Regions from separate parts of the Homo sapiens genome. Here all the other regions are reported to be linked to region 2. Evidence: microRNA targets listed by miRTarBase, many of them from high-throughput screens and not tested one by one. Region 2 holds a microRNA gene; each other region holds the end of a gene's coding sequence.
Evidence for each region. The annotated mature microRNA hsa-miR-6127 reads UGAGGGAGUGGGUGGGAGG and lies in region 2 at 2,354-2,372, shown strand. An mRNA with a match to its seed (bases 2 to 7 or 8) in the 3' UTR can be bound and repressed. Matches are read on the target gene's strand: a 7mer-m8 pairs with bases 2 to 8, a 7mer-A1 pairs with bases 2 to 7 and ends in A, and an 8mer does both.

Region 1 (7,428 bases), not on the chromosome of region 2:
CACAGGGCTGCTTGGCTCACCCTTGCTGCACCTGGCCTGTCCGTCCTCCCACCGCGGTGCCGCCCAGGCCTTCCCACTGCAGGGCTGGCTAACGGTGCATGGAAGAGACTCGAGTCCGTGTTGTGTCCTCATAGCCCACCGAGGAGGCAGCAGTGCCGGACATTTCGCGGATAGGTTGTGGTCTCTGAGTCTCCTCCTCTCAAGAGGATGAGATTTGTCTGTGTTATTGTCAAAACTCTTATTTGTCACGCCGCGGGTTATGTGTCAGTAACAAAAAGCTGAGATTTAGGCCGGTGTTTCTTACTGGTGCAGCCTTTAAATGCACACCTGCGAATGTTCAGTGCACCTTCCGCTTCCTGGCTCTATTTCAGTCAAACCTGAGGTCGTAGTGAAAGTCGGTGAGGAATTCTTTGGAACTTCCTGATTGGCTGTGTCCTTGCCTCCTTGTCTTCCCGCAGATTTGATTTGTATCCACTGTCACCAGCACTGCTCACTTAGGACTTTCTGGATCCGGACCCAGGCAGCGCACACTGGACTCTTGAGGAAGTGAGTACCCCACCACTGCCTGCCTGTTGAACCCGGGGAGGCTCTTGTCTGACTGAAATCACTGCAGGCTTCCCGACGATCCCCTGGGTGTGTGTGGGCAGGCGCACTTGCCACTGGGCACAGGTGATAAAGCATTGTGATTTTTTTTTTTGGTGAGAGGAACGGATGTATCTAAGATCTCAGGAAACTGAGAACTTCCTTTTCTGCTCTTATTAAATGTCAATATATATATAATATATATCAATATATATGTAAATGTATATATTGACATTTAATAGCAAACACTGGAATAATGAGAGGATAGTGACGTTCAGACGTTAAAAGCCAGTGGGCTTCATCGTGGAGCTCAGAATTAAGGTGAAGTTATTTAGCCACACCCAAGGTCAGGTCAGGTAAAATGCTCATTTAACTTACAGGAATGAACTTTGAAGACCATGGCCTTCAAATTGCCTGGGATTATTTCCATGGAAATGCTACTGTGTTTACATTGTCACGAAATGATAGGAAATAGTTTTTGGTTTGGGTTTTTGTTTTTGTTTTGAGACAGAGTCTGTCACCCAGGCTGGAGTATAGTGGCACGATCTCAGCTAGTTGCAACCTCCGCCTCCCAGGTTCAAGCGTGTCTCTTGCCTCAGCCTCCCGAGTAGCTGGGATTACAGGTGCTCGCCACCATGCTCAGCTAATTTTTGTATTTTTAGTAGAGACAGGGTTTCCCAATGTTGGCCAGGCTGGTCTCGAACTCCTGACCTCAGGTGATCCACCCGCCTCAGCCTCCCAAAGTACTGGGATTACAGGCATGAGCTACCTCACCTGGCCTTTCCTTTTTTTTTTTTTTTTTTAGAAGCTGGGTCTCCCTGTTGCCCAGGTTGCAGTGTGGTGGTGGTGCAATCACAGCTCACTGCAGCCTCGACCTCCCAGGCTCAAGTGATCTGCCCACCTCAGTCTCCTGAGTAGCTGGGACTACAGGCATGCACTACCACACCCAGCTAATTAAAAAAAAATAAAAAATAAAAAATAAAAAGTTTTTTTGTAGAGATGGGGTCTCACTGTGTTGCCCAGGCTGGTCTTCTGGTCTTGAACTCCTGGGCTTAAGCAATCCTCCCACCTCAGCCTCCCAAAGTGCTGGGATTACATGTATGAGCCACCATGCCCAGCCACCCCCCCCCCACCCCACTTTTTTTTTTTTTTTTTTGGACAATCACCAGAGAGCTGAATTTTACATTGATTTCACATGTTTGTGTCTTAGGTGACTTTTCCCAACTGTTAATTGATAGAAAATGATTTGTCTGTATCCTTGAAAGATTGTACTGTATTATTTAAAAAAAAACCCTCTAATCTTCCCATTTGACAAATGTGACAGAAGGCTGTGATGAATCAGTAGCATTTAAAGTACTGACACATACCTGTATTTTGCAGGAAGGAGACTCTAATTTTGGATTCCTTGGTGGAGGAAAATAAAACACTCTGGTCTTGCCGCCAACGATGCAAGTGTGACTGCTGGCGTCTTCATGAGCTCCAGAGGTCACAGCACGCTACCAAGGACTCTCATGGCCCCTCGGATGATTTCCGAGGGAGACATAGGAGGCATTGCTCAAATCACCTCCTCTCTATTCCTGGGCAGAGGCAGTGTGGCCTCCAATCGGCACCTCCTCCAGGCTCGTGGCATCACCTGCATTGTTAATGCTACCATTGAGATCCCTAATTTCAACTGGCCCCAATTTGAGTATGTTAAAGTGCCTCTGGCTGACATGCCGCATGCCCCCATTGGACTGTACTTTGACACCGTGGCTGACAAGATCCACAGTGTGAGCAGGAAGCACGGGGCCACCTTGGTGCACTGTGCTGCAGGGGTGAGCCGCTCAGCCACGCTGTGTATCGCGTACCTGATGAAATTCCACAACGTGTGCCTGCTGGAGGCGTACAACTGGGTGAAAGCCCGGCGACCTGTCATCAGGCCCAACGTAGGCTTCTGGAGGCAACTGATAGACTACGAGCGCCAGCTCTTTGGGAAGTCGACAGTTAAAATGGTACAGACACCTTATGGCATAGTTCCCGACGTCTATGAGAAGGAGTCCCGACACCTGATGCCTTACTGGGGGATTTAGTGCCACTGAAGCCTGCGTCAGCAGCCCGAGCGGGGCCGGCATCTGCTCCCCGCCGTCTGCTCCCTCTCCACTCTCTTCTCAAATGGCTGACTTCTGGTTCTCCCTCAAGTGTTTTTTACACTGGGTGTTCAAATTTATTTTAAGAGATAGGGAGGGAGGGGACATAAAGGGAATGCATACATTGCTAGTCACATTTTTAAAATTAACATTTTGGAATAGTGTTTATGGAAATCTTTAGCTTTTAATCATTTTTACCAATTTGAACAGTTTAATAAACTGGTTCTGCTCTCTTCTGAATCTCATGCCTTTGGCACCTTGGTAGGTGCAGGAGGAGCTCAGTGCAAAAATCACTTTGGGGCCTCATTAACCCTTTAGAGACAAGCTTTGCCCCAGGCTGCGGACCAGACAGATGCTTAGGGAAGGTTGATAACCAGCTTCAGTCTCTACTGGATTAGCCCTACTCTTTCCTTTCCCCTCCATTATTTAGTGACTCTGTAAGTAAGTTAAATACACCCTTATTATTTAGCTGTTAAGTAACTATAATGAAATCTGCTGCAAAATCTCTCTTGGAATCCATGTGCCCAGGATTATATTAGCATTATTTTTAATAAATCTATATGCTTAACATATTAGAATTTTTACTAATAATTTCAAGGTGTGTGTGTGTCGATGATGGGAAAAAGGTGCTCTCCAGTAACTAACTAACTAACTGCTGAAATGTGGCTCCTGTGCCAGTTGGGAACATTACTTAAAATACACATCCCAGCAGAGTCTTGTCGGCGCGTCACATCCTGGTGGACAGGCAGACACACCGTCCCCGGTGCTGGGCCGGTGGGAGATGATTGATAGTGCACGCTCTGATCAGGGGTGCTGGTTTTGGTTTCCTCTTGGTTAGTGGAGCGCCCCGAAGCAGCGTGTCCTCCATCAGAGAAACTGGTTTTCAATAAAAGGTGCCTCTGCTTGACTATTATTACCACATACGAAAATGCCCTAAACCAAACCTCAGTATGAGCGATAAGCAAGTAACAAAAACAAACAATGGCTGCCTTTGTTTAACTTTGGGACTGTCTGTCACCCAGTTCACTGCTCCTGATAAAACGGGCAGCACCGCTCATCATCATCAGATACATGGTAGAAGGTGAATGAGCTCGCCCCTGTCCCACTCCTGGGACACTCCTGGGCACTTTCCACGTGCCCCCAAGTAACCACTGTCCTAGGGCATGCCTTTCTTCTGCATGGAGGGCATCCTGGGCGTCTGCCCGTGCAATGGGAACCCGCTGCGGCACTGCTCTTTGGCTTCATTTATCAGGAAGGTTGTAGCTTGCTCACCAGAGGAATAGTTTTCTAGATTTTTTGGGTCAGTTTTGGCAGGAAGCCATACATAGGCCAGTAGCTACATATTTAGACAAATATACTCCACATTTTACCTGGTTTGTGGCAATGGTTTTTTCCCATCTAAATTCTACCTTTTATTGCTTTATACCCGTGGCTGCCCACTGTTATAAACATGCATCATTATTCTCTAGAAAAACTAAAATGAAAAAAATTATTAATAGTTTCTATGGGAAATCAGAGGAAACAACAAATGCTATAAGATCAAAAAAAAAAAAAAAAAAAAAAAATCCAGGGAGGCTCTGGCTGCTTTAGTAGGAGGCTCAGCTTTGAGTCTGGGAGTTTCTGAATAAGAGCACCCAAATAACCATTGTCCTAGGGCGAGAAGACACCTGGTGACAGATGTTCTTGGTAATTAATGAAAATTACCTGTAGAATTCCTGGCAAGCAGCACTACGGGGCTGTAACTAAGAGTTCCTCGCACGTGGGAAGCTGAACACCTTTGTAATCTTAAGCGCATGGGCCCCTGTTCATCCTAGTGACTTGCATCTATGTGAAATCAACCCAACAAAGACAAGACCAAGAAAAGGCTTAGTAGCCTGACATTCTTCTACACTTGTATTTTGGTTAGAGAAGTTTAACAAGGGGTGATTTCAGAACAGACCCTGAAAATATTTTAAAGGTAAAGCTTTATAATGTCTAAACACATCAATTAGAGCAGTTGTTTATTAAAATACAAACAAGGGAGAAACCACACCATCTTTTAAAATACAGGCGCGAATTCCACATCACGCAGAAGACAACGCATTTCGCTAAGGGCCACAGCATTCACTGGTTAATAAAGCCACAGCTACAAAGTAATGAGATGTCCCACATGAATACTTTTTAACCACTTACATTCACGTCAACATATAAATAATGGAATTAAGTAAAAACTTCATTATAATGCTATTTTGTTAGAAAAGTATTTGTAAAGTGGCATTTTTCCCCCAAGAGCTGTTTCACTTAAGCTTTATTTCCTCGGCCTGGCAAGGGGAGGGCTTTTCAGTATTGTTATTTGGTACACACTTACCTGAAGAAATAAGTAAGTAACTTAAACATAAAAAACATAGTCGACACACATCTTGCCCTGCATTCTGACATTTGCTGGAATGGTCTACAGCAGGCTACAATGCTCCCTTCTGAATGGCAAATGTCTGAAAATGTCAGTTTATTAACTGTTCACAAAGGCAGGCATTTGACCTTGAAGGTGTTAAAGGGAATTTTTTATTTTTGAGACAGAGTTTCGCTCTTGTTGCCCAGGCTGGAGTGCAGTGGCGCGATCTCGGCTCACTGCAACCTCCGCCTCTCTGGTTCAAGCAATTCTCCTGCCTCAGCCTCCCGAGTAGCTCGGATTACAGGCACCTGCCACCATGCCCAGCTAATTTTTGTATTTTTAGTAGAGACAGGGTCTCGCCATGTTGGCCAGGCTGGTCTTGAACTCCTGACCTCGGGTGATCCACCCGGCTCGGCCTCCCAAAGTGCTGGGGATTACAGGCGTGAGCCACCACGCCCGGCTAAAGGGAATTTTTGTAGTGGTCCCCAGTACAGGGCCAGCATTTCCTATTTCTGTAACATACAGCCCTATAATCTTTGCAAAGCTGAAGTACACTTGAAATAGGCAAACAGAAGACACCTTTAAACAAATAAGACCCCCCCAAAACCCTTCAAATATGTATATGTACACAAAATATTCAAATAATTAAAAATTCACAACCCCTATGGAATGCTAACTAGTAGCCACAGGAAAAATAAAGCATGGAAAATATCCTCATATATCCAGTACCTCTTCTATCTCAAGCATGTCCAGACAAAAATTAAATTACACACTAAGCCATAAAAATTTTAAAGGCAAAACATCCCACCAAAAAAAGAAAAGTGCTTATTAATGGCCATTCAAGCAGTGGGGTGAAGCGGGCTGACACAATGCACAGTATGGAAATAAGTAACCTTGGCTACAGTTTCCAAGGACACGGGGCTCCTGGCTGACAAGAAGAGCTGAGGTGAAGCTGAATGCAGCGTTGAGCCATTTTAATAAACGTTTATAAAGAAAAGCAGCGCAACCGTGTCCCACACTCCTTGGATCCCTATTGGTGGCATCTAATTAAACATTTCAAGTATTCAAGAGATATGAAAGGTAGTGAATACTTTTCATAGCAAAGGCTTTTTTTCTGTTGACATCTGCTGAATTTTCCTGTGGCACCTCCCAAGGAGTGACTAAGCCTACCATCCTTGGTAAGGAAAATGGGGATTATACTAAGGAATTTTATCTGAGGCATTCTGGAATTTCTCAGGAATAGAAACCAGCCCAGCTACCAAGTGAGCTTTTTAAAATGTTGATACTGGGCCACTGTGACATGACAGGCATCTATATAGCATTTCAAAAAAATGCTTCAGCAATACAAATTCAAACTGGGAAACTTTTTTTTTTTTTTTTTTAAGAGACAGTGTCTCGCTCTGTCATCACCTACGCTGTCACGTGCAGCCTCAAACTCCTGGACTTGTGATCTCCCGCCTCAGCTTACCTAGTAGCTGGGACCACGAATGTCCACAGATGCACTCCACCTACCCGGCTAATTATTTTTTGTATAATTAGCTGGGGTCTTTACCATCATGCCCAGGGCTGGTCTCTAACTCCTGGGAAACATTCTTATTGCAAAGGTAGATTCTGCTGTCATGGTTCTGTTATGAAATTTAGGCCAGGCGCAGTGGCTCACGCCTGTAATCCCGGTACTTTGGGAGGCTGAGGCGGGCGGATCGCCTGAGGTCCGGAGTTCAAGCCTGGCCAACATGGAGAAACCTTGCCTCTACTAAAAATACAAAATTAGCTGGGCGTGGTGGTGCACGCCTGTAATCCCAGCTACTCACGAGGCTGAGGCAGGAGAATCGCTTGAACCCGGGAGGCGGAGGTTGCACTGAGCTGAGATTGTGCCATTGCACTCAAGCCTGGGCAACAAGAGTGAAACTCCATCTCAAAAAAAAACAAAGAATTTTTAAGGCCAATTAGCAGCCTGCTTGCATTCCAGCTCCATGTGGAAGTGGTGCTGTCCAGGATGGAAGCGCCGAGGCCTCAGGAAAAGCCTGCCAAAAGCTGTCCCACTTGTGTTGTTAGAAACACCCCACTAGCCTTGTGGTGGGCAAAAGCTCCAAAGGTGCCCATTCAGAGTGAGCTGCCTCAGTCAGGAATGGCCAGAGACGGTATCATCGGGAGCGAGTGAGAAAAGCCTTTCTCTCCTCGGTGCCTCTCTGTGCATTCGGGCACGCAGAAGGTCAAGCAGAAGCCTCAGCAACAGCTGTTTAATGAAAATGTTCCACACCTTTCTTGGAGAACATGGAAAAGCTGTAAGATGGAGCAAGACAGAATTTGTCCTGAGAGGGGAAAATAAATTATGTAAAAGCAGCAATT
Region 2 (7,428 bases):
CTGCTGTCATCACACTGGCTGCAGCAGGGAGGCACGGCCAGGGCTGCATGCTCCATGTAGCCAGTGGGAGCTGGGGACAGTGGGAACCCCGCCCTCCTGGGAACCACTGCAGCTGCCAAACCACAGCTGATCCTGCTTCATGGAGCAGGTGGGGGCCCCCGCCATCCCCCATGCAGCTGCAGCTGCCTAAACTGCAGCTGTGGACCCAGGCATCCCTGCAATCTTGGGGGCCCGGGAAGGCCCCCCGCCCCACCCTTCAGGCTCAGAAGTGTCTGCTCCCACTGCCTGGCTTCTCCCTCCTCTTGGCGCCCACTCTGATCTTAGAGCAAAGTTGGTGCTGAGCCTGGGTGCTGTCGCAGCCTGGCTGGGTGTGGGCATGCTTGGGGCAGTGCTGACACACTAGACCCCTGCTGCCTTGGCCCCCTCTGGACTTTGGGCACTGACTAGCATGGAAGGAAAGCCAAGGGGAAACTGAGGGCAGCTCGGCACTGGCCTGCAGACGCTCCTTGGCATGAACAGCCTGGGCACCATGAACAGCAGCAGGAGACAGACAGGCTCCTGGGTGGAAGGGGATGGGTCCCTGGTGAGGCCCTACCTTCAAGCCAGGGAGGGCCTCAAGGCTGGGGGCCAGGCTGCCAGTCCCACACACCAGAGTGGGAACTTATGGTGTATTTTCTGGGCTTGCCTATAGCCACCCATGGACCAATCAGTATGCACTTCCTCCTCTCTGAGGCTCATGAAAGCTTCAGGCTCAGCCAGAGCTGGGCAGACATTGGATGACCAGCTGCCGAGAGGAGCTACCCGCTCCAGGGCCTCCTCTCTGCTGAGAGCTGCAGAGATGGCAGAACAACTTGCCTGCAGAAAGGAGCTTCCCATTCCAGGGTCTTCCCTCTTCTGAGAGCTGGAAAGTCGACAGGATGACCTGCCTGCAGAGAGGAGCTTCCCATTCCAGGGTCTCCTCTCTGCTAGCAGCTGAACACTCATCAGGACACCCTGGCTGTGGAAAGGAGCTGCCCCCTGAGGGAGGCTCTGCAGGAGGCTGAGCTGTTCTATCGCTCAGTAAAGCTCCTCTTCGTCTTGCTCACTCCCCACTTGTCTGCATACCTCATTCTTCCTGGTTGCAGGATAAGAACTTGGGACCCATCAAATGGTGGGGCTGAAAGAGCTGTAACACAAACAAGGCTGAAACATGCCCCTTGCTTGCCATGATGCAGGTGAAGGGAAGGAAAGAAGAGCTGCGGCCCTCTGGGGAACCCAGACCTGGGAGCTCCCCAAGCTGGAGCTGTGACTCCCTTTTCGGGGCCCTGTGGTTCCTGGCATCTCGAAGCTTCTGGGTGCCACCGTGTTCCCCGGTGCCAGCTGTGGAAGCTGCTTGTGGTGTACTTGGTCTAGCCACAACCTCTCAGAGAGCTGGCGCCCATGCTGGCACCTGGAGCTGCTCACCCCGCTGCAGCAGCCGGCATGTCTGACTGTGTGCAGTGGCCAGACCCCATGTTCACTCACACACCCTTCACTGTTCCATGCCTGACTTGCCCTGGGCAGATGTGGAACCCAGGCTGGTAATGTGAGCTGAGTGCTGCCTGCCAGGAGGAGTGAGTGAAACAAGCCCAGTGGGCCTGAGCAAAACTTGGGCAAAGGTGCCACCAGCCACAGAGGTTTCCGGCCAGAAAATGACACCCCAAAGATCCTGTAACACCATCTCAAAAAAAAACAAAAAACAAAACCCAGCAACAAAAGCCTGTGAATTCTACCATCTAGAGACAATTGCTGCTAGTGTTTGAACAGATCATCTAGCCTTACTCACCTTAACTGATGGGATGCTCATTACCTGTCAGCACGGCACACTGCATCATTGTCAGCTTGGACCCTGAGAATGCTTTTCTTTAGATAGAGAGGCTCTGTCTCTCCCAGACTGGAGACCAATGTGTTCAGGCCTGGGCTGACCACATCTGTCTGCTTCTTCTCATGAGCATGTTTTTGTTTGTTTGTTTGTTTTCTGAAAATTTTGCCAGAGGCAGGAGGAGGAAAAGAGGAGGAGGAGGGAGGAGATAAGGGAAGGCTGTTGAAGTGGGCAGATGAAGGATGGTCTAGAGCCAGGGTTTTTGAGCTTTGGGGACTTCTTTTTCATTTGCAATCTTGTGTGGCATCTGATGTATGTCAAACAGATAAAAATGGGGATACTGGCTTGAAGGGTGGGGGCCCAGAGCTCCCCCTGACAGCCCCTCCCATGCTCCCTGGATTCAGAAAGTTCGTGGAGCTGGAATCTCATCTGCTCAGCCCATACCTAACTCACAGTGTGACCCTGGGCAAGTTATCTCATCTTTCTGAACCCCACTTTCTCCATCTACCAAGATGAGGGAGTGGGTGGGAGGTGGGAAGGCTGCCCCAAATGGCCTCTAACATCCCTTCCAGTCTCCTCCTCCTCCTCCTCCTTCTTCTTCTTTTGAGACAGAGTCTCATTTTTTTGCCCAGGTGGGAGTGTAGTGGCTGGATCTCAGCTCACTGCAACCTCTGCCTCCTGGGTTCAAGAGATTCTCCTGCCTCAGCCTTCCAAGTAGCTGGGATTACAGGCACGCATGCACCACCATGCCCAGCTAATTTTTGTATTTTTAGTAGAGACGGGGTTTTGCCATGTTGCCCAGGCTGGTCTCAAACTCCTGACCTCAGGTGATCTGTCCATCTCGGCCTCCCAAAGTGCTGGGATTACAGGCGTGAGCCACCGCGCCCAGCCCAGTATCCATCTTCTTCTTCTTCTTCTTCTTCTTTTTTTTTTTTTTTTTTTGAGACAGTCTCACTTTGTTGCCCAGGCTGGAGTGCAGTGGCTCGATCTCAGCTCACTGCAACCTCTGCCTCCTGGGTTCAAGAGATTCTCCTGCCTCAGCCTTCCAAGTAGCTGGGATTACAGGCGTGTGTGCACCACCACGCCCGGCTAATTTTTGTATTTTTAGTAGGGACGGGGTTTTGCCATGTTGCCCAGGCTGGTCTCAAACCCCTGACCTCAGGTGATCTGCCCATCTCGGCCTCCCAAAGTGCTAGGATTACAGGTGTGAGCCACCGCGCCCGGCCCAGTATCCATCTTCTTTGACTGCATTGCGTCAGCCCTGCTTGCCTGCCAGAGGAGTTAGAAACATGACATGCCCGAGGCAGAAACGCCAGCCCTGCGTGCCCTATTTTACTCTGAAGACACAAAGGACCAGAGACAAAAAAAGACTTGCCCGGGTCACACAGACAGGGGCAAGAGTTGGCAAGAGGAAAAATCAGATACTGTGAAAAGCTTCTCAAAGTCTAGTTTTCAAAATATTGAATACCCAGTTCCTATAGAAATACAGTGTGGGAATGTGTCAGTGTCCTCTTGTAGGTTGTTAATGGAGGAACCAGCTGGGTGACAAAGCTAGTTCAATGGATATGGAAAAAAATATATATGTATACCTATATATGGAGACAGAGAGAGTCAGTTAAAACAACAAGAATTCTGGAATATTCATAAAATTGCTAAATTAGATACAAAACTGGTTAGTGTTCTATAGGGCAATAAAATCATCATGTTGGGGCTATCTTCTCTATTGAAAAGAAATCATTTGCATCTCTACTAGACAAAAATAATTTGCAACTTAACAGTTTTCTACCAGTTAACAGCTATCTTTACTGAATCTGGGCTCTAATCAATAGTAAATAATAAGTCAAGCCAAGTGACATTCCCCTAGAGTGTCAGATGACCCTTAGCAGGGTTTGTTAGATACAGCTCTCATTTGACTTTGAAAGGACACCGGTTATCTATTTGCCTTATTTCCAAGTGTTGGATGATTTTACTTATCAGGCTGTTGCAAGAGTATAAACACTTCCCAAGAAATAAAAGACATCGATACTAATGCGCATATCATTAGTGTGAGAAATAAAAGGGTCAGCAATGGCCCTGTGCATGTCACAACAGGGACACCTTCAGGCGGAGAGGAAGGGCATATTCTTCCATTTCTCCAGAGCCCAGACTCCTAGACGGGAGGCAGGAGATGTGGGGAAGAGAGGAAATTCCTAGCCATGCTTGCACAGTTATGATCCATGAGGTTCAGTCTCAGAGTGGGATCAAAGGTCAAATAAATAACCAAAAAATAATTTTTAAATGACTTGAATTCTTTATGGCAGTCACATCCCATTCAAGGGTTGTGTTGCAAAATCGGCATACGAGGCAAACATTGTAAATGGTGAGTATCACCATTGTAAATGGTGGAAAAATTCTTCAAACAGCGCCACGTGAAAGACTGTATTACCGTTTCACAATAGTCTTTTGCTGTCAGTTTTGGCTCCAATAGTAGAACAGATTTCTTTTTCTTCAGTTGAGTACCAGTTGGTTAAGGTTAACCAATTCCCCCACCACTCACACACAAAGGAATTGAATCTTTGGAGACTGGAGCCACCCTTGGAGGTGAGGTGTTTAGATCATGAGGGGTTCACAGGAGCGGAGGCAGACTTGGGGACAGCAGAACTCTCCCAGCCACGGTCCCTCCAGAAATAGGCTCTTAGAAGACAGTATCCCCTGGCTGGGAGCAGTGGCTCACGCCTGTAATCCCAGCACTTTGGGAGGTCGAGGAGGGTGGATCAACTGAGGCCGGGAGTTTGAGTCCAGCCTGACAAACATGGATAAACTCTGTCTCTACTAAAAGTATAAAATTAGTTGGCCTAGTGGCACATGCCTGTAATCCCTGCTACTCGGGAGGCTGAGGCAGGAGAATTGCTTGAACCCAGGAGGTGGAGGTTGCAGTGAACCAAGATCAGGCCATTGCACTTCAGCTTGGGCGACAAGAGTGAAACTCCGTCTCAAAAAAAAAAAAAACCAATATCCCCTGCCTTACTTAAATTGTGATTCTCTCTCTGAGTCCTATTAGGCGAAGTGGAGATAGGCAAGTGTGTATATAATGCGACTCTAAGGTGCTTGTATATTTCTTTTAAAAAAAATGAGGCATAATTTGCACAGAGTAAAATGTGCACATCTCAAGCACACTGCTCAGTAGCTTACACCTGCACGCACAGGCCCTCTACCACCACTCAGATCAGAGTGCAGAGTATCCATCTCCCCAGCGAGGCGGCCGTGACCCTCCAAGTCAACAGTGCTCCCCTCCACCCGCAAAGTAACCGGTGTTCTGCTCTCCCTCACCATTGGTGCCTTCTGCCTGTTCTTGAACTTCATGTCAATGGAATCATGCGGCCTGTGCTCTTTTGTGTCTGGCTTCTTTTGAAGAGCATGCCGGTGAGATGCATCTGTGTTACGTGTGTCAGTTTGCGTGGTATTGCTGAGTGCTATTCCATCGTATGCATATGCAGTATCACACTTTGTTTGTCCCTTCTGTTGGTACAGAGTTTGGGCTATGATGAATAAAGCTGCTAAGAACATTCTGGTGCAAGTCCTCTGCCCCACCCAGCCCTGTGAACAGATACACTCAATTCTCTGCTGTACATTTGAACACCAGGAAGGAGGCATAGAGTTGACACCAGTGCTCTTTGCTCTTTTCCATCCACTCCTCCAGACCTCTGTCTTCAACTTCCTGTCTCCAGCAAAAAAAAAAATCTCCCGGCCCCTCTGCCCAGAGCCACTGTTCCTCCTTCTCCCTGACTCTCCTGCTCTCTGTTCTTTATTATGGAGATTGTCTTAGTCTCGCCTTTCTTGCAAAACCCTCCTTCTGGGCCTTTTGGGGTCTATCCTTCCATTCTTTGTCCCCACCACCCAATAAGATCAGGGTTTTGTTAGCAAGTGGTTGGGGGAGGCATTTGGAATTGGGGAGGGAGCTGTTGTGTGAGAGAACTGCCATGTGTTGTCTGTGCACACTCTTTATTCTTTACTTTTCTTGGCAGATAAAAGCACTTCTTGGGATTATTTTATGAAACGCAGAGGGGATTGTAAACAACAGATCATTTGTTGCGGAGATGGAGGCAGCATGTGTTCAAATTCAGTGTGTGTCTCTCTTTGGCTGTGTGATCTTGCACGAGTAACCTCCTGTGTCTGGGGCTCTAGCACCTCACCTATAAACTGGGAATGATGACCTCAAACTATGCCAGGCTTCCAGACAGTAGTGCGGCTGGTCTCTGGCACACAGTAGGCTCTTAGCACAATGTTTTACCTCCTCCTACTCTCACCTGGCACTCAGAGGGCCGGTGCATGAAAGAAAATTTGGAAAAAAAAAAAAAAAAAAAAAAAGAAGACAGAAAAGATTTATTGGCAGGGGAGAGTGAAGAAAAATAGGAAGAAATAAAGCCCCCCAGCTGGAAGCCAACACCCTGAATGCCTGTGAGGGAGGCAGCCCAGCCCGGAGGGGAACTGGGTGGAGCTGCTCTGGAGACATTCCCCACAGGCAAATATAGCCGGAAGCCACCAGGCAGGTAAGATGTAAAAAGATTAAGAGGACTAAGAGTTTGGAAAACAAACAGATCGGGCTGTGGGAGCCAACAAGGAGGTATTACCTCCACCTTGAGAGGGCTGGGCCTGACGTCCAGGTTGCTGGGAGATGCTAGCTTCCAAGGAGCTCACATAGGCATGAGGGTCACAAGAGAGTGGCCAGGGAGAGCCTGGAGTGCAAATGATCTCCCTCATCTGCCCATCACAGGACCTGAAATTCCTCCTGTAGTCATTCTTTCCACAGGGTAAGCCTTGTCCTCTCTGGGGTGTTTTGAGGTTGATGCTTCACCGTGGTATGTTTGCAAGATGCTAATAGGCTCTTCCTTGTGAGCCCTACTGAATGCTGGACTTCCTACTGGGTGCTTAATACACGACCTCACTTCATCATCAGAATCCCCGGGGAGGTGGCATGGTGACAGTCCCTTTTACAGATGAGGTAACTGAGGTTCAGAGAGGGTAAGTGACTCACACAAGGTCACACAGCCGGTAAATTGAATAGTTATTTATTTATTTATTTATTTATATTTGGGCACGGAGTCTCTCTCTGTGGCCCAGGCTGGAGTGCAGTGGCGTGGTCTCGGCTCACTGCAACCTCTGCCTTCTGGGATCAAGTGATTCTGGTGCTTCAGCCTCCCAAGCAGCTGGGATTACAGGCTTACACCACGACACCTGGCTATTTTTTTTTTTTTAGATGAAGTCTTGCTCTGTCACCAGACTGGAGTGCAGTGGCACGATCTCAGCTCATTGCAAGCTCTGCCTCCCAGGTTTAAGCAATTCTTTTACCTCAGCCTCCCGAGTAGCTGGGACTACAGGTGCGCGCCACCATGCCAGGCTAATTTTTGTTTTTTTCAGTAGGGACAGGGTTTCACCACGTTGGCCAGGATGGTCTCCATCTCTTGATCTCTTGATCCGCCCGCCTTGGCCTCCCAAAGAGCTGGAATTACAGGCGTGAGCCATCGCGCCTGGCCTGGAATAGTTATTTCTACCACATTGGGTTACCTTCCTGAGAGTGTGCCGTTGGCATCCGTCCTGCAGATTGGGGT
Region 3 (7,428 bases), not on the chromosome of region 2:
GTAAGGCCCCAGTATCCCATTTTTCTGGGCTGGGTCCTACTCTTCCTTTTTGCCCTAGGGGTTGCTCTTTCCTTTCCATAGCTAGAGCATGGGTACTGCTCTCTTCTCTGATTCCCTCACATAGGTCCCCTGGGTGCCTAGGCTCAGCTAGATGCATTGGCCCCTCTCTTCCCTGTGTTCCTCAACTCCTGCTGCCCTGAAGCCTTGCCAGGAAGGGTTTGGAGGTCAGGGGTCCTAAGGTGACCCAGTGAATTCTGCTTGGCCTCTCCCTGGCCAGGTGACTGTCCACACTCATGACACCTCTGGACTCCAGGCTCCACCCGCTTCCTCTAATTGTAATTTCCTTGAGTCTGCCTGTGTCCTCAATTTCAGTCATCATGGTCACCACTTGTGGGCCCACTGCACTGTTCCTGCAGGACAATTTTCTGAGGTTCATTTTGTAGCATTTGTTTTCTTGCAATTTTGCATGGGTGGGCTACTCTGGCTAGTGCTCTCAGCCTGTTTCACCTTTCCCCTATGCTTTGTATCTTCCAGATCCTCTGTGGTTGTTGAATTGTAACAAGAGAGAGAACTCTGGCTGCCTGAGAGGGCATGACTCTAGTCACAGCAGGAGGGGCTTGGACAGGCCCTGGTGAGTGGGAGCTGAGGGACGCCATAACCTCAGGGCTGGGTTCCTGTAGTTCCGGAAACCTATGTTGTGCCCATCACAAGTGCCAAGGCCAGAGGCCCTAACTTATTTCTACCTTTTTATCCCCATTCTGTACACTCTTGTCATTTCTAATCTGACTTCTGACCCAGGGCTGTCTTCTCCCATTCTCTACCAGAGGGGCTCTAGTAGAGCAATAGCTCTCTCTGCGATGCTTTCCAATATTGTACTACACTTACACTATTGTGTCATAAGATGTGTGCATATCTGTAAATAGTCCCTGAACACGTTACTTATTTTTAATCACATTTTCCTGGGCCTGTACTCACATTTCGCATAGGAGTCACCTGTCACCCACAGTCAGCCAAGGTCCTGCTAAAAGTCATTGCAGAGGATTAAGTTGGAGACCTTGTACTACACCCCATCCTCGTGTCTTTGTTTCTTGTGAGGCCATCTCCATTCTGTGACTCTTAGATTCCAGTACTGTACAGCAGCCCTTTTTTCAACCTGATCCTAGCTCTGTTCCACCAGGAAACTTAGGTACTCAGTCCTGGGTACAGCAGACACATATTTGTGATGTAGTTGCCCCACCCACCAAAGTCAGCATGTACATCAATAGTATTTTTCTGCCTTCAGGTTGTTGGCATGAAGTGAAGGATGAAGAGTCATCTTCTGAACAGAGCATTTCTATAGCAGTGTCACATGTTAATACTTCCAAGGCAGGTTTGCCCGCACAGACGGCTCTCCCTTGTGACATATGTGGCCCCATCTTGAAAGATATTTTGCACCTGGATGAACACCAGGGTACACACCATGGACTGAAACTTCACACATGTGGGGCATGTGGGAGACAATTCTGGTTCAGTGCAAACCTTCATCAGTACCAGAAGTGTTACAGTATAGAGCAACCCTTAAGAAGGGATAAAAGTGAGGCCTCAATTGTGAAGAACTGCACAGTTAGCAAAGAACCTCATCCGTCAGAGAAGCCCTTTACGTGTAAGGAGGAGCAGAAAAACTTCCAGGCTACTTTGGGTGGCTGCCAACAAAAGGCCATCCACAGTAAGAGGAAGACACACAGGAGCACTGAGAGTGGGGATGCATTTCATGGTGAACAAATGCATTACAAGTGCAGTGAATGTGGGAAAGCTTTCAGCCGCAAAGACACACTTGTCCAGCACCAGAGAATTCATAGTGGAGAGAAGCCTTATGAGTGCAGCGAATGTGGGAAAGCCTTCAGCCGCAAAGCTACACTTGTCCAGCATCAGAGAATCCATACTGGAGAAAGGCCTTATGAATGCAGCGAATGTGGAAAAACCTTCAGTCGAAAAGACAACCTTACTCAGCACAAGAGAATCCACACTGGAGAAATGCCTTATAAGTGCAATGAATGTGGGAAATATTTTAGCCATCACTCCAATCTAATTGTACACCAGAGAGTTCACAATGGAGCAAGGCCTTATAAGTGCAGTGATTGTGGGAAAGTCTTCAGACACAAATCTACACTTGTTCAGCATGAGAGTATTCACACTGGAGAAAATCCTTATGATTGCAGTGATTGTGGGAAATCCTTTGGCCACAAATACACCCTCATTAAACATCAGCGAATTCACACTGAGTCAAAGCCGTTTGAGTGCATTGAATGCGGGAAATTCTTTAGTCGAAGTTCTGACTATATTGCACACCAGAGGGTTCACACTGGTGAAAGGCCTTTTGTGTGCAGTAAATGTGGGAAAGACTTTATCAGAACCTCCCACCTTGTTCGACACCAAAGAGTTCACACTGGAGAAAGGCCATATGAGTGCAGTGAATGTGGGAAGGCCTACAGCTTAAGCTCCCACCTCAATCGGCACCAGAAAGTTCACACTGCAGGCAGGCTTTAGGAGTGCTTTGAATACAACAGGACTCATCAATCAGATGTTGAATTTCATGTATCTGAACATTGACACAAAGGAGATACCTTATGGTGCCAGGTACGTGGGAACCTTCTAGGGATATGTTGCACTTTCTGACTTGCTCAGGTTTTTTGCCAGAGTTATGTCACTGTCAATCCATGTGGCCGAAACCATCTTAACTCTACCAGCTAAGATACCCCAGCATTGGGGAAGGCAGGGTTTTGTATTGTCCAGTCCCTGGAGAAAATCATGAAATGCCTGAGTTCATTGGGGGTCCTCATTCCCTTCTGTATGACAGGTATAGGTATGGATATGACCCATTTTTAGCCAAGAGGGTCTGAGCTGTATCTGCTGGTGGCTTATACAAAAAGTTTACTTTCTTCATGGATATTCTTGGTCTCACATACTTGTAATCAAGTTTTTCCAGCCTCCAAGTCACCTGGCCTGGGAAAGTACTTGCCTCATGTTGCTCTGGTTTGTGATAATAAAGGCTTTACAGTTTAAGCCACATTTAATCTTGGGGCTTCTTCTTATGGTCTGGGGTGGATTGAAAACAGGCTCTGCCAAACTGAAGACAGCCTTTGTGCGGTGCCTCCAACTTTGCCTCAAATGGGACAGTGGGTTGAGGGAGAACAGTTCTTAGTCCAGTTTTGATGTTAACTTCCATAGCTGACAAAGCTTGTTAAGTAAGAATTAAGATCTTGTGTAGACCTGATTTGTCTGGATTTTAGAGTTATTTGAGAGCCCATATTTCACCTTGAGGAGGGTGCTGCTGCTGTGACAGCCTGCAGTGTTTTGAAACAGCATGGATTGGGTGTCTTGTTTGCAGCATGTGTCCCATGTTCCCCAACACTGTTGAGGGAAAGCTGTTCCTCAGGACCTGCTGAGTGGCCATATTCCCTGAAGGCCTGAATCTGTTTCACAGGCCACTGTTGGTAAGATCTAAAGCATCCAGTAGGGAAACAAAATTGATAAATATTGAGTGTGAGTAATTGGGATTGGGGAGATTGTGGCAAACTAGAGGGGAAGTGCCCATTGTAAAAACACATCCACAGACAGTCCAGGCACTAAGGCTGAATGGGATCAGGGTATCCAGAAATCTCAGGATCTCCAGGGCCATGTTACTGTTAGGTCAAGGTCACTGGTGCAGCAACGAATGTAGTTTTTCTAGATTCCTCTCCCTCCCTGGGCTCTTTACCTAATGTCTTTGCGGCACAGGCGGTAACCCTGGGAGTAAAGAGGTGTGGTCCAAGGAAGTAGCTTTTGTGACCAGCTGGAGTTTCTGGTGACTCTTTTGGCAATGGTCCTCATTGTTTGCCAGTTTTTCTTACTACTGAGGAAGAGATTGTCTTCCCAAGATATTTGGAGTGATAAGAGTCACCATAGTGAGGTAGAGTCACTCTTAGTGATGTCCAGTTGTCCAGTTTCCAATAGAAGTGGGAGATCCAGATTTTTAAATGGGATAACTTTTTATAGGTTCACTGAGGTGTAATCAACATGCAATATATTGCACATATTTAAAGTGTACGAGTTAAGTCTTGATACACACACACACACACACACACACACACACACACACACTTGAAACTATCACCCTATCAGTGGTATTGGACATATCTGTTACCCCCAAAGTTAACCTGAGGCCCTTAACCTTTCTCTCAGTGCTCGCCTTCCCCCAGAATCCCTAGGCAACCACTGAGTAGTTTTCACTGTAGGTAAATTTGTCTTTTCTAGAATTTTATGTAAGTCTGCCTATAAAGTGTTAATTTTGCATGCTGTCTTTCATGCAACATAATTTGAAATTTGTCCATGGTATGTATGAACAGTCCATTTTAAAATTACTGAGTCATATTCTGTATGGATATACCACAGTTTATCCATTTATCTTAATTGATGTCTGTACTCCACCCCCATTTTTAAATATTAAAAAGCTGCTGCAAATATTGATGCATGAGTCTTTATGTGGACACTTAGCTGAGAACATTTTTAAGCAGAGGTTTTGAAGGTGTGACCATATATCTTACTAATTATAGTAAAATATATTGGAAAAGAGATACATACAGGGAAGAACTGTGAAACAGAAAAGACCTAAGATTTGATGATTTGGGAAATTCTCAGCCCATCTTAATTGGAAAAAAAAAACAAACCATTGAAATTAAGAGATTCATTGTTAGGAAAGATAGATGTTTTAGAGAGAGAGATGTTTTAGAGAGATAGCCAAGGATGTTTGCTGATACCGGGATCAAAACATACATCAGAACACTGTCACACAAAAAGCTCTTTGAAGAGATTAAATGTGACTTGTAGATCCCCTCAATACAAACAATTTATAAGAAGTTTAAACTATCACTCATCTCAGCAAAAGCCAAAAATATAGATAGGGGATTCCCTAGGAGGAATAATCTGCATAAACCTCTTTTCTAATGTTGTGAATTTCAGTGATGTACAGGAGACTCACAAAATTCTTGAAAATTTTATACCAGTGGAAATGCTCACCTTGGGTCTAAAGGGACCTTGAAAGTATGAAGTTAAAGGGTGTAGGCATGTAAAGTGTGAAGTTAAAGGTTGTAATATTCTATACATGGGACTGGCTGCGGAAACAGGTGCAAGCCCTTGCTACCTTTCATGAGAAAGGAAGGATGACTCAGAGCAGAGGAGAGTCCAGTGGGCAGAGTCCTGAACCATGTGATATTCCCATGTCTTGACTCCCAGTGGCATTTGCCAAACTAGATTTCAGATTTTCTTGGGATTGGTGGTTCCATTTTTTTTGTTTTCCCCCCTTCCATTTCCTCCCCTTTTGAAACAATGCATATACATATAACTATTATCCTAGGTCTTTCCCAACCTTTTGTTTGGGAGCAGATAACTAGTTTTCTAGTTTTACAGATCCAAATGAGACAGGAATAGCACTGGGTGGTCACAGGAGGATGGAAAATCTCAACACCCTGGTTTTGGTGCAGCTGAAAAAAAAAAAGAAAAACCCAAACAACAGCTAAAACGGGAACTAGGCAAAGAAACCGTGGGATAACAGAAAACCCAAAACAAAAGAGAAAACTGCCAGAACCCCAGTCAGGGTGACATGTCTGTAACTCTTCCAGGCAAACCCAAATAAGGGAGGAGGGGTGGTAATCAGGGGTCCCTGAAATCCCCTCTTTTCCCAGAATACCTAATGATTACCCCTATTAAAGGAACACCCATACAATTAGAAACCCAAACTTTGTTTTGCATGACTTGCTCTCAGGGGCACTCCCACACTTCTCTCTTGTGTGTACTTTTGCTTCACAATAAAAGCTGCTTGCCTTTGCTTCACTGTGACTCGTCACTGAATTCTTTCAATGGTGTTAAGAACCTGGATGCTGCTGGGGCTGGGATCTCACCAACAATGTCCAGAGACCCCCCCGAACCCCCCAGCAACACAGAGAAGAATTGTGCCCCAAGATGGGATTATACCTAGAGCCTCATCCATATTGGACTTAGACAATTTAGATGAAATTGGAGACTTTAGCTCAGTGTGGAGGCGCACACCTGTAGTCCCAGCTGCTCAGGAGGCTAAGGCAGGAGAATCGCTTGAACCCAGGAGACAGAGGTGGCAGTGAGCCAAGATTGCGCCACTGCACTCTAGCCTGGGCAATAAAGCGAGACTGTCTCAAAAAAAATCATAAAATAGTAAAAGGCATCAAATTTTTGAGGGGAAATACCTATTGGTGAACTGAAAACTCGACAACAGTTCTGGTGTGTGGGATAACATGTTAATAGCCTTGATCATTTTGAATTTCATAATCATAAATGGGATTTTGTTTTTGAGATGGGGTTTCACTCTTGTTGCCCAGGCTGGAGTGCCATGGCACTATCTCAGCTCACTGCAACCTCTGCCTCCTGGGTTCAAGCGATTCTTCTGCCTCAGCCTCCTGAGTAGCTGGGATTACAGGCATGCACCACCACGCCTGGCTCATTTTGTATTTTTAGTAGAGACAGGGTTTCTCCATGTTGGTCAGGCTGGTCTTGAACTTCTGACCTCAGGTGATCCGGCTGCCTTGACCTCCCAAAGTGCCAGGATTACAGGCATGAGCCACTGTGCCTGGCCTTTTGGGATTGGTTTAAAGAGCTGTGGAAGACAATTGAGCAATTACCACAGAGATTAGCAATGGAGTTCCTAGTATATTTGAAAATGAATAAAATTGTTCCTGGGAAAATTAACAATAGTGATCTCAGTCTAAATTACAGAGTAAGCAATTCAGAGAGGATAATATGCCACATATGCATAGATTTGTTTAAAACAGTAAATTATATAGCACTGTAAAAATTGAAAAAAATACTATTAGAACAACAAACAATTAGGTTGATGAAGCACAATAAGAGACTAATGAAAAGGAAAGAAATGAAATTACTTAATATCAAAATGTATGAAATAAATTTAAGCCATATACAAGCATGCCAAATTAACTTGTGAGATTAACAAAGAGTGTATTAATTGGGGAAAAAGACTAGGAGTCTGCAAATCCTAAGATTAGGCTTAACACTAAGCCTCTTACAAACTTCAAGTTTTCAAAAAGGCTCAAGGTTTTCTGGTACAGAGGTACTATGGGAGCACAGTTCAGATTTAACTTAACATTACGTTATTTAGGCCAGGCACGGTGGCTCATGCCTGTAATCTCAGCACTTTGGGAGGCTGAGGCGGGCAGATCACGAGGTCAAGAGATGGAGACCATCATGGCTACCACAGTGAAACCCCATATCTACTAAAAATACAAAAAATTAGCCGGGTGTGGTGGCAGGCGCCTGTAGTCCCAGCTACCCGGGAGGCTGAGGCAGGAGAATGGCATGAACCCGGGAGGCGGAGCTTGTGGTGAGCCGAGATCACACCACTGCACTCCAGCCTGGGTGATAGAG
Region 4 (7,428 bases), not on the chromosome of region 2:
CGGCCAGCGTGGCATCCTGGCTTGCCTTGTCCCTGCCCCCTGCATAGCCACATCGTGACTCTCAGGATGGTGGCCAGTGACTCTGGGTTTACACCTCCTGGAGGTCGTTGGTGTGTTTGGGGCTTCTGAGGAATTCCATGGGGGTGGGGGAGCCCCGGGAAGGCTGAGTGAACGAGATAGTTCAGCTCTGAGCTTGAAGAGCTCAGACTGGCCCCAGCTGATGGTCCTGGGTTTTAATCCCAGCACCGCCTCCTGCTGGCTTAGCTACCTCGGCAGCTTGTTGCACGTTTCTAGGCCTCAGTTGGGTTGTTTCTGAGATGGAAATAGTAACGCGCTCTGCATCATGGTGTGTGTGGGCCGGCTGCCCGAGAGCTGTCCTGGCCACGCAGCAGTGGTGTTTGTATCGAGTGCTCTTGCTTTGCTCATCGTGGTTCACAGGGTGGGTCTCTGTCCTCCGCAGGTGGTCCAAGATCTATTTTGTATTGTGGTGGCTGGTGTCGTCTGTCATCTGGGTCAACCTGTTTCTGGCCCTGATTCTGGAGGTATCAGAGATCCCCACCCAGGCTGTTCTCCATGGTCGTTTGTTTCTAATTCACTCTCGATGGGCCTGAGGCCACCGGCCGGGCCTGCCTGGAACTTTGATGGGAGAGTCGTGCTGGGTTAGGCGGGTCCTGAGTGAGGCTGAGCCCCTCCCGTGGGGCTCAGTGCTGCCCGCCCTGGCTGCTGGGGCCTTGGGGAGTGCTCCTGACATCTGGGCTGCTGGGGCCTTGGGGGGTGCTCCTGACATCTGGGCTGCTGGGGCCTTGGGGGGTGCTCCTGACATCTGGGCTGTGGGGATTCTCAGGCCCCCAGGTCGGGCTGAAGGAGGGACTTGGACATTGGCTCCAGGAGGAGCCAGCAGCCTCGTGGGGCCTGTGCCTGGGTGTCCAGGGTGAATGGCTCAGCCCCCTCAGCGGGTGCCCTGTGGCTGACCCTGGAGGGGCCGGGGATGGGGCAAGGCTGCTTTCATTCGGGGCCCACACTCACTGGCCACTCCTCCTGCTTGCCAGAACTTCCTTCACAAGTGGGACCCCCGCAGCCACCTGCAGCCCCTTGCTGGGACCCCAGAGGCCACCTACCAGATGACTGTGGAGCTCCTGTTCAGGTGTGTGGGTGGGGAAGGCGCTTCTGTCTGGCCCCCTGGGATGGGAAGCCAAGAGCTGGGGGGTGGAGGGGTTGAGGCGGCGGGCAGGCCCTGATGACTGTCCTCCCCCTCCGCCCGGTTATCTGGCTTTGGTCCTGTGCTCTAGGAGAGCAGCTCAGAGCCGGGATCGGGGCGGCTTCTTCTTCCTGCCACTGGCGTCATAGCCTTTGTCCTGCTCTCCTGCTCTTGGATTGGGCATATTTAAGGCACCATCCTTCAGGGTCCATTGGATCCTGTTGGATGTAAACAAGGGACCTGAGGAAAACGCACCCATCTCTTCTCCTGGCAGCTTTGAGATGGTTCCTCTGCTAGTCCAGAAAAGTGACCACCCAGAGGCAGCCCTGCTGTGGGGCCTCTGTGCCTTCCACCAGGGGCTGCCGAGTTGCTGCAGCCAAGCCCTGCGGTCCTGCCAGCCAGTGGGAAGACGTGGCCCCTGGGCTTTTAAGAATGCCGTGTAGATATTTCTAGTGGCTACATCCATCCTGAGGCTCATCTGAGTCCCCGTGTCTCTGTGTCCCTGTGACACTCACTTCGCATGTGTTGCTAAGCTCTGCTCCCTTGTTCTTGTGGGCAGGCCAGGGTCTCCCTCCTTTAGAGGCCCCTGTGTGCATCTTTCCTCAATTCCACAGGGATATTCTGGAGGAGCCCGGGGAGGATGAGCTCACAGAGAGGCTGAGCCAGCACCCGCACCTGTGGCTGTGCAGGTGACGTCCGGGCTGCCGTCCCAGCAGGGGCGGCAGGAGAGAGAGGCTGGCCTACACAGGTGCCCGTCATGGAAGAGGCGGCCATGCTGTGGCCAGCCAGGCAGGAAGAGACCTTTCCTCTGACGGACCACTAAGCTGGGGACAGGAACCAAGTCCTTTGCGTGTGGCCCAACAACCATCTACAGAACAGCTGCTGGTGCTTCAGGGAGGCGCCGTGCCCTCCGCTTTCTTTTATAGCTGCTTCAGTGAGAATTCCCTCGTCGACTCCACAGGGACCTTTCAGACAAAAATGCAAGAAGCAGCGGCCTCCCCTGTCCCCTGCAGCTTCCGTGGTGCCTTTGCTGCCGGCAGCCCTTGGGGACCACAGGCCTGACCAGGGCCTGCACAGGTTAACCGTCAGACTTCCGGGGCATTCAGGTGGGGATGCTGGTGGTTTGACATGGAGAGAACCTTGACTGTGTTTTATTATTTCATGGCTTGTATGAGTGTGACTGGGTGTGTTTCTTTAGGGTTCTGATTGCCAGTTATTTTCATCAATAAGTCTTGCAAAGAATGGGATTGTCATTCTTCACTTCAGCACAGTTCTAGTCCTGCTTCTCTGGAGTAGGGTTGTTGAGTAAGGTTGCTTGGGTTGTGCATTGCACAAGGGCACATGGCTGTGAGGTGTATCCTGGCGGGGGGCTGTCTACCTGCAGTGAGGGGCACCTTTTCTGTTTTGCTCAAAGGCATGTATAAGCCAATGGGTGACCTTATTTCCTGTGTCTTCAGGTGTGTGGCAGGGGGCCTGGGGTGGGGAGGTGGGGCGAGCGAGCAGTGTGTGGAAAGCCTTGTTGTCACCTGAAGCACGCCAGGTCCAGATTGACCAATGGTTTTCTCACTTCAGGGGCCAACCCACGCCCCCTTTCTGCTGAGGTTTGGGTGCCATCTAGTGGTGGGATGGGACTTGGTTGACTACATTTAAGGTAAGGTGGACCCAGCAACTCCCAGAAACAACTCCGGGGACACCACTCCCCATCACACTCCACACCGAGCCTGGTGCCCGGTCTGTGCCCGAGCTCAGCGGGACCAGGAAGGGATGGGCCCTGCCAGGGTTGCCCCTGCACTGTGCATTCTCGCCTGGGAGGCACAAGTTCTTTCATCTGCTTTTCCTTCAGAGGTGCTGAGCCCACGCCATAGCCCCTGTGGGATGGTGGGGGAGGGGGCGACCCGAACAACAGTGCAGTCGGTATCGAGATTGGGGAGAGGAGCGAGTCCAAGGAGAAGGTCATGAGTTTCTTTTTACTCGTGTTGAATAATAACAATAACAATAACAATAACAATATGGAAACCACCGCAAACTTGGAGAAAAGTTGTAAGCACAGTAAAGAGAAGCTTCCTTCTGAGTCACTTGAGTGGTTGCCGTTCTGGCCCTGCACCCTCTGTGCTTTGGGACGGCGTCCAACCCGCATTCATGTCAGGAGTGAGTCGCACGTGGCTTTGTGGTCATGGCGACTTAATCCGCCTGGACGGTGGCTCCGTCTCCCTGGGCTTAGACGACCTTGGCACTTCTGGAGATAAGCCCATGGCTCCCAGGTTGTGTTCATGTGACGTTTCCTTGTGGTAGGTTCTGGGTCTGCGTTTCGTCTAGGAGTGTCACAGGATGGACACTGCCTCCTGGCAGGGGCTGCCCAATGCAGTTAGCCTCCTGCTGGTGTTCTCTCTTGTTGCTTGGTGAAGGTGGCCCTGGTCAGCTTCTCCACTGCCCAGTGAACGACCCCTTTGTAATGAATGAGTGGGGAGGTAGTGTGAAGCGATGCCAATATCCCATCCCTGTCAAACTGCCTTTACTTTTTCCTTCCTTCCTTGCTCCCACCTGTGTGGATCCTGGTCCCTTCTTGTATTCAGGGCTGTGGTCTGTTATGACATTTACTCTCAGGCTCAGGTCCTGCTTGTTTGGCCCGTGGGAGCCCCTTCTTCTGCCTTTTGTGTTTTTTTTGTTATGTACCTACAGTTCTTTAGCTGTTTCTTTACTTTCTGGTGCAAAAAGATGTTCAAGCCTTATTTTATACTTGCCTGCCCCTTTCTCTTTCATTTATTGGAGTGAGCTGCAGCTCTAAGAAGACCTGTTCTTTTGAATGGAGAGTAGCATCAGGAACCAGGATGTGGGTGCGAGGCGTGCTCCTGGCTGTTGCAGATTGCTGCACCCGGGAGCTCTTAGTGGACAGAGCTAGAGGATATGTGCACGTACTTCCATCTCTCTCTCTGTCTCATCTATTCACAGCTGGGAATGATACTAATACCTCCGATTTTAGCCCAGCACCACAGGGTACGTTCCAGTTTTTCTCTCTTTCCATAGCTGTAAGGCCCTTTCTGGGAATGGTTCTCATTCTCCTTAATCTATTATTGGGTCAGTTTTCCTGCATGTCCCCAGCCTCCCATCACTGCCACCCACTCCCCACAGAGATGCCCTGCTCATCCGACTGGGGCTTTGACTCCCACACTGTGTACCCCTCTTGTGTGGACGCCCTGCTGCCAAAACCTTCAGCAAACAGCTTTCCAAATGGAAGTTGTCACTGTCAGGGCCTTTACAATCAGCAACAGCAAAATCTACATGCTGCTGAGGGTCCTGCCTCATTAAGATGCAATAAATATGTAAGTACATAAAAACAGCAATAGAAGAAACGTAATGCTTTATTCTCAAATATGATGTCTACATAGAAAAGCCAAAATTATTAAGAATAGTAAGAATTCACCCAGCACTTTGGGAGGCCGAGGCGGGTGGATCATGAGGTCAGGAGATCGAGACCATCCTGGCTAACAAGGTGAAACCCCGTCTCTACTAAAAATACAAAAAATTAGCCGGGCGCAGTGGCGGGCGCCTGTAGTCCCAGCTACTGGGGAGGCTGAGGCAGGAGAATGGCGTGAACCCGGGAAGCGGAGCTTGCAGTGAGCCGAGATTGCGCCACTGCAGTCCGCAGTCCAGCCTGGGCGACAGAGCGAGACTCCGTCTCAAAAAAAAAAAAAAAAAAAAAAAAGAATTCAGCACAGTTGTTTGCTATGAGATTTAAAAAGTTTTTACTTTATTACTTATTCATTTATTTATTTTAGGGTCTTGCTCTGTTACCCAGGCTGGAGTGCAGTGGTGTGATCATGGCTCACTGCAGCCTCCAACTTGTGGGCTCAAGCAGTCCTCCTACCTTGGCCTCCTGAGTAGCTGTAACTACAGGCACATGCCACCAGGTCTGGCTAATTGTTTTATTTCTTGTAGAGATGGAGTATCTCTATGTTGCCCAGGCTATTCTTGAATTCCTAGGCTCAAGTGATCCTCCCACCTTGGCCTCCCAAAGTGCTGAGATTACAGGTGTGAGTCACTGCACCTGGCCTGCCCTGAGATTATATACTGAAATCAATTGCTTTTCTAGACACTAGCAATAAGCTTATAAATTATATTCAAGGATTCAGTTATATTCATTTTTTAAAAGATATTTAAATAAGATTAAAAATTCTTAAAGTTTCTAAAAATAAATGGAAGGAAAGATATTCAAGGCCTATATACAGAAAACTATAAAACTTCATTAAAGCCCATGACTGTAGATACAAGTAAATTGAGACTATGTAGTTTTCTGTTGCTGTGTAACAAGTCCCCACATACTTGGTAGCTTATCACAACCTCATTTCTTAGCTCCAAGCTGCAGGTCAGACATCCAGGCACGGCTTGGTAGGTCCTCCGTTCAGCAGAAATTGGGGTGTCAGTGGGCTGGGTTCCTTCTGGGAGCTCCGGGGAAGAGTCTGCTCCCATACTCACTTGGGTTGTTGGCCAAATGCAGTTGCTTGCAGGTGTTGGGCTGATGTCCGTTTCCTGCTGGCTGTCAGCCAGGGGCTGCTCTTAGGGACTAGAGGCCACCCACATTCCTTGCCATAGGGTCCCCTCCATCTTCAAAGTCAGCAACAAAGAAGCTGCCTCACATTGACTCCCACTCACCCTTTGAATCTCTAGGAAAAGCCTGTGTGGTTTACAGTTTCACCTGATTAGGTCAGACCCACCAGGACAACTGCCCATCCTTAAAAGTCCTGTGTGCCACCTAACATATCCCAATTCCGGGAGTGACTTATTCACGGGAGGAGATTATGTAAGGGTAAGGATCACTGGGGTCATCTTGGAATTCTGGCCACCACAGTTTTTCTATCTTCATGGTCAAAAAGAATTGATATTGTAAAAATGTCAGCCTTCTCCAATTTCATCCATACATTCATTATAATTCTAAACATAATGCCATTTTTTTCCCACAAAATTTGATAAGTTGATTGAAAAATTAACATGAAAGTACAAAAACAAGAGCAAAAATCCTTTCTGTGGGAGAATCCAGTTGAGGGAATTGCTGCTCCATTATTCCTGACTTACATTGCTGGGACAGCAGCCACAGCAGTGTGGTCCTGGTGCAGGAGCTAATCGGCTAAGGGGAGAGAGCCCGGGAGCCCCGCACACCGGCGCAAGGGCGAATCTACTAAGGGGAGAGAGCCCGGGAGCCCCGCACACCGGCGCAAGGGGCGGATCGGCTAAGGGGAGAGAGCCCGGGAGCCCTGCACAAATGCGGAACTGCGACGGATGGCAGCAAACCCGCAGGGAAGGGATTGTTATTTAATAAATGCTGCCAGAAATTCCAGCCCAGGTGGGAAAAGAAAGAAATAAGTTCCCTGTTTCACACCTAACACAAAAGTACATACCGACTGGAGGCGGGCTTAAGTGTGAAAAGCAAGTTTTAGAACGTTTAGAAGATGAACTCAATATATTTAAATTAAGAACTTCTTTCTTTAAAAAAGGCCATAAAATAGGCAAGCCACACACTGGGAGAAGATTTTGGTAACTGAGAACAACTAAGAACTTATATCCAGACCACATAAAGAGTACCTACAAATTAGGAAGAAAAAGACAAAGCAGTAGAAAGTTGGGCTTTTCACAGAAAAGCAAACACCCGGGTTCCATAGCTATGTCAAAAGTTGCTCCGTCTTACTAGTTATTAGGAATATGCAAAATGAAACTGAAACACAACATTTCACTCACTCCATGGTCAAAATGGAAGAGGTTGGACCATCTTAATTGTTAGTACTTACATGTTTATTCTGAAGAGTCAAGCTAAGCTGAAACAACCTCTTTGGAAAATTGTTTGGTGTCATTTCTTGCAATTGAATAGGACATACCTTGGTAATTCTCTGCTAGATACACTCACAAGAGAAACTGCTGCCCGTGTGCACTGGAAGACGGTCGGCAGAGTGATCCTAAGAGCAGTATCAGTACTAGCAACACATCTGCCAGCTGAAACGTCCTCAACAGAATGACAGGTACGCTGCAGCTTGGTGACAGTGGAGTATTACACGGCCGTGAACATGAATGAACTCCAGCTGCAAAGAGCTACCTGGAAGAATCTTAGAAACATAATGTTGGGTGAACAAGTTCCAGAAGTCTCCACACGGCACGGTATTATTCATGTAAAATTCAAAAGCAAGGTTAAACAACATACCATGTAGGCACGCATACATCAGTGATGAGGTTACTTCAACACA

Region 1: miRTarBase lists DUSP14 as a target of hsa-miR-6127. Seed matches in the 3' UTR shown: 7mer-m8 at 2,711-2,717 and 8mer at 2,751-2,758.
Region 3: miRTarBase lists ZNF134 as a target of hsa-miR-6127. Seed matches in the 3' UTR shown: 7mer-m8 at 3,716-3,722.
Region 4: miRTarBase lists TPCN2 as a target of hsa-miR-6127. The part of its 3' UTR that is shown has no 7-base or 8-base seed match.

Annotation. Positions count from the first base shown.
Region 1 is chr17:37,510,219-37,517,646 of GRCh38, forward strand. DUSP14 (dual specificity phosphatase 14) reads left to right here. Exons shown (of 3, transcript NM_007026.4): 2 at 459-546; 3 at 1,963-3,280. The coding sequence starts at 2,055. The coding sequence ends at 2,651. SYNRG (synergin gamma) reads right to left here. Exons shown (of 22, transcript NM_007247.6): 22 at 4,589-7,428. Among named protein-coding and RNA genes, the nearest start is that of DUSP14, 24 kb to the left of the region's middle. RefSeq lists a silencer at 2,290-2,680 and an enhancer at 2,439-2,952.
Region 2 is chr1:22,628,272-22,635,699 of GRCh38, reverse strand. It overlaps MIR6127 (microRNA 6127), which reads left to right and starts at 2,334; the gene lies at 2,334-2,442.
Region 3 is chr19:57,618,878-57,626,305 of GRCh38, forward strand. It overlaps ZNF134 (zinc finger protein 134), which reads left to right. Exons shown (of 3, transcript NM_003435.5): 2 at 535-631; 3 at 1,283-5,847. The coding sequence starts at 592. The coding sequence ends at 2,526. Among named protein-coding and RNA genes, the nearest start is that of ZNF134, 8.4 kb to the left of the region's middle.
Region 4 is chr11:69,086,063-69,093,490 of GRCh38, forward strand. TPCN2 (two pore segment channel 2) reads left to right here. Exons shown (of 25, transcript NM_139075.4): 23 at 461-542; 24 at 1,050-1,144; 25 at 1,813-4,535. The coding sequence ends at 1,891. Among named protein-coding and RNA genes, the nearest start is that of MIR3164, 6.6 kb to the left of the region's middle. RefSeq lists enhancers at 1-24, 25-524 and a silencer at 2,691-2,830.